Regions from separate parts of the Homo sapiens genome. Here region 2 is reported to be linked to region 1. The links are microRNA targets in miRTarBase. Many come from high-throughput screens and were not tested one by one. Region 1 holds a microRNA gene; the other region holds the end of a gene's coding sequence.

Region 1 (5,174 bases):
GCGGCCAGCGTGGCAGAGTGCAGGAGGAAGGACCACAGGTAACGGCGGTTATGTAAGTCATGTCTGATCCGTGTCCTGGGTTCGTTCATTCATCCCATACACGTTCAACGAGCGCCTCCTAGGCGCAGATGCAGGGCTGAGCACCAGGCTGGGGAGAGGCGGTTATAGCCATTGAGACCACCCTAAGGCCAAGAGGAAGCCCGCAGGGTTCTTTCCAGCAGGTGGCAGGGGCTCAGGGATCCTTACTGAAGAAGTGGCAGGGGTGAGTTCAGCGACGAGGCTAGGGCGGGTCCAGGCCAGCGATAGGGCCTGGAGCCAGGGTCAGAAAGTGTGTGCGGAGGGGCTGCTGAAGATGAAATGCCCCCAAGAGTGAGGCTACCTGGGGTGAGGGCCCAAAGGGAGAGGCAAACATGGGTGGAGGGGGATAGGGAAGCCACCTCCCCCATCAAAGCGGCAACCACCTGAGGGCTCTCGGTGATCACAAACCCTCTTTCTTTGGAAGCCCAAATTGGAAGCCTGCTTGGCCCTGGAGGCTGCCAGGGAACCTCTCTTTTTTTGGAGACAGAGTCTCACTGTGTCACCCGGGCTGGAGTGCAGTGGTGCGATCAGAGCTCACTGCAGCCTCCACCTCCTGGGCTCAAGCGATCCTCCTGCCTCAGCCTCCAGAGTAGCTGGGACCACAAGCAGGCAGGCAGGCCACTGTGTTTGACTTCTCTCCTTTCATTCCTTCAACACTTCCCCTGTGCTTGCTTGCTTGCTCAGTGGTTACGAAAAAAAGCCGGGGCTGGGAGTTTGAACACACTGTTCTAATAAACTTTAGAAGAGACCTGGTTGGGTGCAGCTGTGAGGACCAGATTCCCCCACCCCAGCCTTCGCAGGGGGCACTATCTGGGGGCAGGAGCTTGCCCAGGGCACTTGTGCAAAGGCCCTGAAGCCTCCAGTGGCAACAGGTGGCTTCACAAGCTGAAGGGAGTCCCTGGGGGCTGAAGCCAGGGCTGGCCAGCCTTGGGACCCCCCGTGGGCTATGTCCTGAGGCACCAGGTGCGTTCTGGGAAGGGGGAGGCAGACATCACATGGGAATGCACAGAAACAGAGCGCATACACGCCTGCGCCATTTATTTAGAACACAGAGCCGGGCACAGTGGCTCATGCCTGTAATCCCAACGCTTTGGGAGGCCGAGGCAGGTGGATCACTTGAGGTCAGGAGTTCGAGACCAGCTTGGCCAACGTGGTGAAACCCCATCTCTACTAAAAATACGAAATTAGCCAGGTGTGATGGCACAGCCATAATCCCAGCTACTCGGCAGACAGAGGTTGCAGCCAGCTGAGACTGGGTGACAAAGCGAGACTGTGTCTCAAAAATAAAGAAGAAAAAGAAAACAACTCCTTTACAGAAGAGGTGGGAGAGTCACTAGTCACAAGAACAGCCCTCGAGGGTGGAAGGGCCTGGCCTAACCACGGTCCCCCAGGAGGGCCCTGGAGAGATGCAGAGCCCAGAACCGGGAAGGGAGCCTTGGGATGGAGTCCTCTGGGGAGGGCCCCCACGTCCTCATCCCGGGACCTGTGCCCTTGGCCTTGCCCTTCAGCAGAAGCCCAAGACCAGGGTGGCAGGAAACCCACTCCAGGCAACCTGCCCCCAGCTGCTGGGTCCTGTCCCGCAAGGCTCATCACTTTTTCTACTTGAGGTCAATAAAAAGTGGGGCCTAAACACCCCTGGGCCTCCCATTTCCAAATGGGGTCCCGATGCAACCACAGTTGCCCGAGACGTGCGTGCACTACACAATGTGTGGCGTTTCCTGGCAAGGGCCGGAGCAGCTTTCCGTGTCTGCACTCCATCCTTTGACGGGCAACACACAGCAGCTCCCAGTCTCTTTAACCCCCTCTCACCATCTGTGTGCAGTCCCTATCTCTGGGCAGGGCAGAGAGGGAAGCCAGCTCTGTGCACAGGGCCCAGCTCCACACAGGGCTGGGGACACCACCCACTGTCCGAGAGGCACTAGAAGCTGCAGGATGGTGGCCCATGATCTGGGGCTGGAACTGGGACCCCACAGCAGGTGTGGCCCAGCCCTGGGGGAGCCAGCCCTGGGCCAGCTTTTGTGAGGGAAAGTTTCACTGCTCTGTTTTCTCTGCGTTGATGGGAAGAGAATCAGTCCCGGCTGCAGGGACAGTGGCCTCCCCGGGGCACATGCAGAGGCCTCACCAGGCACCAAGACCAAGACCACCACAAAATCTAAAATCCATACAAACATTTATTCTGTCCCTGCCTGGAGGTGAGGGGGAAGGGGGTCCGGAGAGCCCCGCAGAGGAGGACGGGGCTCTAGCGGGAAGACAGTGTCCGGAGGCCGGTGGGCTCCCTCTAGACGGCAGACCCTGGGGCTAACGAGGGGCCAGCTGGGTTCTCAGAGGTCACGGAGTGCAGGGGTGGGGCGGCGAGTGGTGGAAGCCGGCGCCCCCGAAGACCGGCCAGCCCCTGGAGCACAGAGGCGGGTCCAGCCCACACTGCGCTGAGTGTGGCCCTGGCCCCCACTGGGGTCTGTCCCACCCCCACCCCGCAGGAGGGAAGGCAGCAGGCCCGCTCTTCCCGGTGGGAAAGATGCTGTGCAAGTCATCAGGTTTAAATTAAAAATAATAAAAATAACAATACAAAATAAAAAAAGACTGTCTCAAACAAACCTGGGACAAGCCCGCCCCGCGACCCACGTGAGGAGCAGAGGTGCCGGCCACCACCCGGGAGGGAGGGCCTGGCAGGAGGGGCAGGAGGGGCTGCGGGCCGGGTGGGGGCGGGCTCTGTCCTGGTCTCCATCAGCAGCAGTTTCTAGAGACGCCAGAGGGCTGGGGGGCAGAGGGTGGGGACCGGCGGAGGGGTGCGGCAGGACGTGAGCGGGGGTGGGCTGGGCTGGGCGTTCTCTGGCCGCCAGCTCATCCCGCTGCTCTGGGCTGCCTCGGCCAGGTGGACGGGTTACCGGAGATTTATTGCACTGTTTTGGAAGAGGCATGGGGCTAAGGACCAGCGGGACGGCAGGAGAGGCGGGTGGGAGGCGGGCAGGCGTCATCGCTTGGTCTTGGCGTCTTCTCGAACCTTCCAGATCACCAGGTGCATGCAGGCGCCGGCGTCCTCGCTGGAGCTGTGCCCATCCACTGCGGGGCAGATGCGGTGAGCACCCGGCCCCTGCGCAGGGACGGCCCCAGGGCAGGCACCGGCACTCACCATTGTCCTGGATGATCTGTCTGAGGTAGTCGGCCATGAGGTTCCGCAGGGACCGCTTGTAGGGGAGGCCCAGGCGGTGGGGGAAGAGCACAGACGTGTCCACCACGGTGCTGTGGATGACCTGTGGGCAGCGGCAGAGATCAGCGCACGTGGGGCCTGCGCAGGTCCTGCTGGAGAACCGCGCGGGACCCGGGCCGGCAGGGCACCTTCAGGGCCAGGAGGTCGCTCTCCAGGCTGTGTCCGATGAGGATGGTGTCAGCGCTGAACATGCTCAGCAGAACGGCCTGGACGTCACGCAGCGTGACACTTGTGTCGGCAAGGTCAGCCTCCGTCACCCCCGAAAACCTGGGGGAACGGGCAGGAGGGGCACCAGGGCTCAGCCTGGAAGCACTGGCTGGTGGGGCGGGGGAGGGTGGGTCCCTGGGGAGAGGCGGCTGGGAGGGCTCCCAGCTCGTGGAGGGCACTGGCCACACCTGGTGTTGTAGTCCACGATCTCGTTGTCAGGCTTCACGAAGGTGTCATAAACCACGTGCACGTCCGTGTCGACCACCGTGACGCGCGTCAGCTCCAGGCCATATGTGGTGTAGGACTGCGGGCAAGGGATGCACCTCAGATGTGTCCCAGGCACCGGCCTCCCTCCCTCCCCTTCCCTGCCCCTTTGAGTCTCCAGAGCCCCTCCAGGCAGAGGCAGTGACCAGAGACTCTGTGGGACTTCTAGGAGAGGCCGAGTGGGGTGTGACCTCAGTAACCCCCTTTCGCAAAGCCCTCCTGCCTCCCATTCAGAGGCAGAGCCGGGGCCCAGTGCCCGGTGTGCTTGGCTCTGCTGGGAAGTATGGGGTGTTGGTCCAGGGCAGGAGCCACAGGCACCGGTGCTGCGAGAGAAACCCTGAGCGCTGGCCGGTGAGCCAGGCCCAGATGGGGCCAGATGGGGCGGCCGCACCAGGCCAGGTCCTCCCCAATCCTGAACCCGACGCTGGGCAGAGAACAGCCTCACCATCTCGCAGTCCAGGGCGTAGATCCCCGGGTGGGTGTCTCCTGAGAGCTCTTTCTCAAAGGTCTTCACGAAGCCCTCAAGGCGCTCCTTCCGGCCATCCTGCACGTGTTGCTGGGGGTGGAGAAGGCAGGTGAGGGCAGCTTCGGGGTGCAGTGGGGGCGGGGGTGGCAGCAGCAGCACATCTCTGAGCCCTTCGGGACCATCCTATCCATCCATCACGCCCATTCACTGGTTGGGACCCTGGTGAGCAGGTGGGGAAGGGGGCTTGCCAAGAAGACACAGGGAGGACGGCTTCCCAGGATGGGAAGTGGCCAGGGACAGGGCCTGGGGCCTACGGGTGCTACGTTCTCTGGGTAACACAAGAAAGGCTGCCCGGGGGCCCAGACCCTGAGCCCAGGACTGTGCTGTGTCCCGAGACCCCACACCAACGATGGGGAGGCAGAAGTCTGTTGAGAACAGGCAGAGGGGACTGGGACGCCAGGGCTCACCTTTGCGACTTGGCAGCCGACAGAGCCGGCGGCAGCCGAGCAGCACATGTACTGGGTCTCCCAGCCTCCGGCCACTGCAGGGGACACAGACACACAGTCAGGGCCCGGCCAGGCCCACTCCACAGCCCCCGGGGCACTGACCACCTGCATCTACCGAGCCCTACTAGGGAGTGAGGACTGAGGACAGGAGGCCTCAGCCTCTTGGTGGAGCTGGAAGCAGACCAGGCCCCGGCAGTCGTGTGGCAGCCAGGACGCCCAGGCCTGGATCCAGGGAGACCAGTGCCCTCTGCAGAGGCCTCTTGGCAGCGCTGCCCCGGGCAGCACCCTCCAGGTATCCCTGAGGCGATGGCTTTAGGGGCCGCCACAGGGCTGTGCAAGGCTGGCCATGTGCCCTGAGCGTGGCTGCGTGGTTGCCTGGGGGATTGAATAGAACCACCAGGCCAAGGGTGGGACAAGCCCCTCCGCTCCTGGGGCCAGCAACCTC
Region 2 (5,000 bases), not on the chromosome of region 1:
TCCTCAGGGAGGAAGGGCCTTGTGGGAGGGGGCGCCAAGTGGAACTGGAGAGCCCTGCTTCCGTTTAGAGGAGGTATTTTTCAGAGTTCCTACCCCGGCTTTCTGGAGGGCAGCCCCAGCTTCCTGCCCCTCACTTTAGCAAGGGGCCAGAAGACTGCCCAGGGCTGCCCACTCCTGTCTTGGAGAGGAGCTGACTCAGAGGACAGTCTAAGTCAGGGTGAGGATGGGAGTCCTGCTTCCTGCCAGGGGTGCCCGGCAGAGGGACAGGGGCGAGGTTCACACAGAGCAAAGTTGCCTCCACTCAACAGAAGCCACGGGATCTGGAGAACCCAGGCCCTGGAAAATGCACCTGGGCCACCATCCATCTCATTACCCTAAGAGCCTTTTGCCCCTGGGTAAAAAGTCTCCTAAATTCAGCCCTTTAGATAAATAAGAAGGACCACGCCCTATAAGAGAATGAAGAGAGGAAACCACTGAAGAGTGTGTGTGAGCTGGGAGGTGACAGCCCAAGGGAGGCTCTGATGGCCCCAAGAGAGAAGTATCAGAGGTGGCTGGAGAGGCAGCCGTGCATGCGGAGACGGAAGCGTGCTGCAGACACGGTCACCCTCACGGAAACAGCTGTGTGTAACCACCTCCATGCACGCTGCCTGTTGGGCCTGAGCCAAGCAGCAGCAGGGACAGAGAGGCAGGTGTTGCAGGGAAACCAGGCACACGATGGTGCCAGCTGGAGGCTGCCAGGGCGGCCCCACCAGGGACTGCCCCTAACTGCCTCCCTATGTCAGGTACAACCAGCAGGCTTACCCCAAAGGGCCTGATAAGGAAGGAAGAAATCAAAACCCCAGAGGAGCTCAGCACAGGTGAGACAAGACCCAGCAGGCTCCATGAAAGAAAAAGGACCCACAGGCAGCAAGAATGCAGAGGTGGAGATGACAGCAACATGGCCTCACTGTTACCAGGATGCAGCGCCTGGACAGGAGCTGGCAGGGGACTCCCAGTCATCACTGCCACCAGGGCGCAGCGCCTGATCAGGAGCTGGCAGGGGACTCCCAGTCAGGGCCCAGTGGGCAGCCGCTCCAGCTCTCTGAAGTGACTACAAAGCCAGCTGGTCTCAAAAGTGGCTGTCAGAGCAGCTAAATTCTGGGCCGTGGGGAAAGAGCAGCGGAGGGAAGGAGGAGGAAGCAAGTGGAGGTGGCTGGGGTGGGGCAGTGTCACGAGCGTATGTCTCAGGTGGTCACAGGCCCCCCCCCCTCCCCGCCCAGGTCTGAGGGGACAGTGAAGGACAGGGAGATTGGGTGCCAGGGGCCTCTTCTTTACAGTAAAGCAGTGTTTTGGAATTTGAGTGCAGAATGTAGGTTTGGGGGCTGGGTTGCATCTCGTACTCCATACTAGCTGACTCCCAAAACAGCTCACATCTGAATGTCAGGAAGAATCCACAGCCCAGCTGCAGGCGAGGTCAGAATGTACCCGACACTGCTGAGGGCGGCAGGCAAAGCCCTGGTCAATTCCTAGCCCCGTCCTCCGACCCAAGACTCCTAAGGCAGCTCCTCTCTGAGCAAAGGCCTCTAGTGATGATGGTTTCCCAACTTCTTTCAGGAAAAGGTAAGTTAGGTGTTGTGTGGCAACCCCCAGATGGGCCCAGACAAGTTGAGGGGAAGAGCTCTAGACAGGGCAGACAGCCTGCTGCTGGTCTCTGATCCTCTGCCAACGATTCCTCCAACTAGTCCAGGCATCTCCAAGGCTCCCTGACTAGACACAGCACCTTGGTTTCTGAATGAGAAAAGGGAACTCTTTCCCCCTCAGCCAATCAAGCAGCCAGGGCCTAACTCTGAGGCCTGTTCAGCCTAACTTAATTCCTTCTTCTGAGGCCCCTGGGAAGATGAAAGGCGATGGCTGATAGAGATGAGACACATTTTACTCTAAGAAGTGTCTCTTCTCTGTTGCATTTGCTTTCAGATCTGTCTTTGTCTCTCTGGGCCTAATTGGGTGGGAGAGAAGCTGATAGGATCGTTTCTACCTCTCCTAGACTCTGGCCATTCCCAGGGCCTGGAGTGGGCTTGGGGGAGATGCTCCAGCAGGGCCAGGGTACAGAGCCTCCACCGCCCTCCCATCGGCCAGGGGCACGCAAGGGGCAAAGGTCTCCAGCGAGAGCACAAATCTGACACAATTTACTTCTGACAAGGCAAGATGAGAGAATGGTCTGAGTCTTTCACAACCCTGGTTTTCTCAAGGAGAGGCCACAACCGGCCAAGCCGAGGCAAGCGCAGCAATTCTAGCCCAGGGTCACCCAGGAGGCTTGTGGGTGGGTGGAGTGGAGTAAATTTCTGGTGCCTGGAGCCAACAGGCAGAGAAAGGAGTGGGAGCTTCAGACCTCTCCCCAAAGGCAAGACAGAGCGAAGGCCACGCTGGGGCTCTGTCTCAGAGACGTACCCTCAAAACATGTCACTCCTCCTCTGTTCTAAGCACCAAGGGCTGATGCAGCCAGCCTGTACTCCCGCACCCTCCTGTCACGGCCAGGGTGCGTGCGCACCACAGAGCTCCGCTGGCCAGTTCCCTCGGAGGTGTCCCCCAGGCACTCATAATGCTGGTGGCTGAAAGACCAAAAGCAGCACCAAAGGAAGGGATCTTATTTAGGCACCAGCCTTTTGCTCTAGCAGAATCTGAGAAGACCACGGGTAGGGCCCTGATACCATCCACGCTTCCATTTGGGCTTCACAACAGGAGACAAGATCCCTGCACCAAGAAGAGAGCACGGTCTTTTCTGAGGAGAGAGAAGGGTGGGGAGCTCCGCCTCTGTCCTTCAAGGAGACTGGCCCACCAGTCTAGAGACACACACACGGCAAAATGTCATCGTGATCAGCAGGGTCTGTGCTAAAAAATTATAACTACACGGCATTTTCTCCAGTTCTGACACCTTTTTAATAGAAATCACTGTTTTTAGGAAACAAATAGCACTTTTGTAATTTTTTTTTACAATGTTTCTTACCTTGATCTTAATTTAAGTAACACTAGGAAGACCTCAATATCTTTTATTTTCCTTTTTAATTTAAAAAAAAGTTTTTTTTCCCCAGATACAAAGATTTTTGCCCTTGCATAAAAAAACAGTGCCCGAACGATGACACAAGGACTCACAAAGACTCACGGGACCTCACTGACACTATGATTCCTACTCTACCATGCAAGGTCTTGGCTACCCTTAATTGGACTGTCAGCCTGAAAAACAGCTTTTCTATTCCTTATTTTAGTTTTTGTTACCAAGAAAGTAAAATGAACAGTAAAATAAAACTTTCCTTAAAGAAAAAAAGAACAAAAACAAAAATTAAAGAAAGAGAAAAGAAACGTCTCCATTCAATTCACACACACCTGGGTCGCGTGCTGCTTCACTCAAGATCTTCTCTTCTTATAAATATAGAAAAGGGATGGAGCTTGTTTTCAAGTAAAATCACTGATCCACCTTTTTTTCCTTCCTGGACACACACATCCTTCTTCCCTGCCTTGGGCAAGGGCCAGTGGCCCGGGCTCTGCTTGTTCTTGGAGAGGAGACAGCGGGATAACCACGGAGATGCGCGACTCACCAAGCAGGGAAGGAAGGAGACTGGGCAGGCTTCAGGAGTGGTGGGGTTACCGCGCAGGGAGCAGAGTGCAGGGGAGAAGAACCTACTGGCTGTTCTTGGTGTCAGTCTCCCCTTGCACGAGGCCCCCGCCAGAGGTGATTAAATACTGCTTATTTGATACACTGTCCCACCCCCTGCTCCCTCCAGCCACTCCCCTTCCCTCTTCTGGGCACTGGGGTTGGTGAAATCTCAATTCCTTTTTTTGGTTTTATAGTAGCGAAAGTTTAGAAACAGGAAAGCCCACACACTCTTTGGACTTGTCTTCTCTACCTAAACAAACGGCTCGGCAAGTAAGGATCTGAAACCTGCTCTCCTCCCTCCGCCCGTCCCTGCTCCCCACCCAAGAAAACAGAAACAAACCCATCGTGGCTGTGGAGGCTGCTGCAGGCACACACTGGTGTATAATAGAGAGAGTAAATATATTATTTCACTTGGCATGGTGCTGGCAAAGAACCTCCAGCTGGCACTATTTCATGTAACATGGTCCAATCTTTGCATGTACACACAGAATAAGAAGGATCAATTGGCAAACTCTGGTGCCACCTGGCACAAGCATCTTCTCTCTCTCTGGAACCAAAGAACCAAAAGAATTCTGCACTTTCCAGAAATCCGGCTTTGCTTTTCTAGAGTCTTCAGTGTTCTGTTCTCCTTGCCGCCGGGATCCCGTGGCTTCTCCTAGAGGGGCTCTGTTATTTAGTCTCTTCCCCCTGGTTACAGTTCGCTGTGCAGCTCTGGGAGGAGGGGGAAGGGGCCGGCGTGGAGGTGGCGGCATTGGCAGGGGGGGTGCAGTCCGGGCCATTGGAGATGGCCCCCACAGTGGCCTCAGAGTCTACAGGTTTGGAGAGGTCGATGCCGTGGATGAGGCGAATCAGCTGTTTTACCTTCTCCAGGGAGCTGTGCATCTCCTTCTGCCGGGCCAGGATGGTGTTCTTCATTTCCATGCATTTCTGCAGCAAATGACAAGGGCAGTGGCACTGAGCCGCCTGGTTTCTAACAGGCCTGGCAGCCCCTAAGAGCAGAGCGCCTTCTCTCTGCCCAGGGAGAAGAAGCTCTGCTGGCTGCTGTGCAGCCCCTGGGCCTTGCTGTGTTCCTCAGTGGAGTGGGCGGCTACCACCTAAGGAACAGGGCGGGTGGAGTGGGTAGGCTGGGGGGTCCCAGGTCCCAGAGGCAACAGAGGGAGAAAGAGCATGCGGGCACCAACACACAGGAGTACTAACGCTTAAAAACAAACCGGCAGAGCCGCCATCAGACTTCCAAACAAAGGTTGTTTAAAAAAAAAAAAAAAGTTCCCACAGCTGTCCTGCAGCCTGTTTAGGCAGGTTTTGATATGCTTCTGTCATGCTAACTGGGGAGCCTTCAGGACTGGACTGAGCTCTCCAGGGTGGAAAA

Evidence for each region. Region 1 holds the annotated microRNA hsa-miR-1909-3p (CGCAGGGGCCGGGUGCUCACCG, at 3,153-3,174, opposite strand). A microRNA usually pairs through its seed, bases 2 to 8, with sites in the 3' UTR of a target mRNA and lowers its output. Matches are read on the target gene's strand: a 7mer-m8 pairs with bases 2 to 8, a 7mer-A1 pairs with bases 2 to 7 and ends in A, and an 8mer does both.
Region 2: miRTarBase lists PHF21A as a target of hsa-miR-1909-3p. Seed matches in the 3' UTR shown: 8mer at 3,639-3,646, 7mer-m8 at 1,036-1,042, 7mer-m8 at 981-987 and 7mer-A1 at 694-700.

What each region holds. Positions count from the first base shown.
Region 1 is chr19:1,813,017-1,818,190 of GRCh38, forward strand. It overlaps MIR1909 (microRNA 1909), which reads right to left and starts at 3,222; the gene lies at 3,143-3,222. It overlaps REXO1 (RNA exonuclease 1 homolog), which reads right to left. Exons shown (of 16, transcript NM_020695.4): 11 at 4,691-4,764; 12 at 4,203-4,313; 13 at 3,682-3,797; 14 at 3,415-3,553; 15 at 3,209-3,329; 16 at 2,232-3,138. The coding sequence ends at 3,050. RefSeq lists an enhancer at 1-53.
Region 2 is chr11:45,929,668-45,934,667 of GRCh38, forward strand. It overlaps PHF21A (PHD finger protein 21A), which reads right to left. Exons shown (of 19, transcript NM_001352027.3): 19 at 1-4,558. The coding sequence ends at 4,301. Among named protein-coding and RNA genes, the nearest start is that of LARGE2, 9.5 kb to the left of the region's middle. RefSeq lists enhancers at 291-480, 831-920.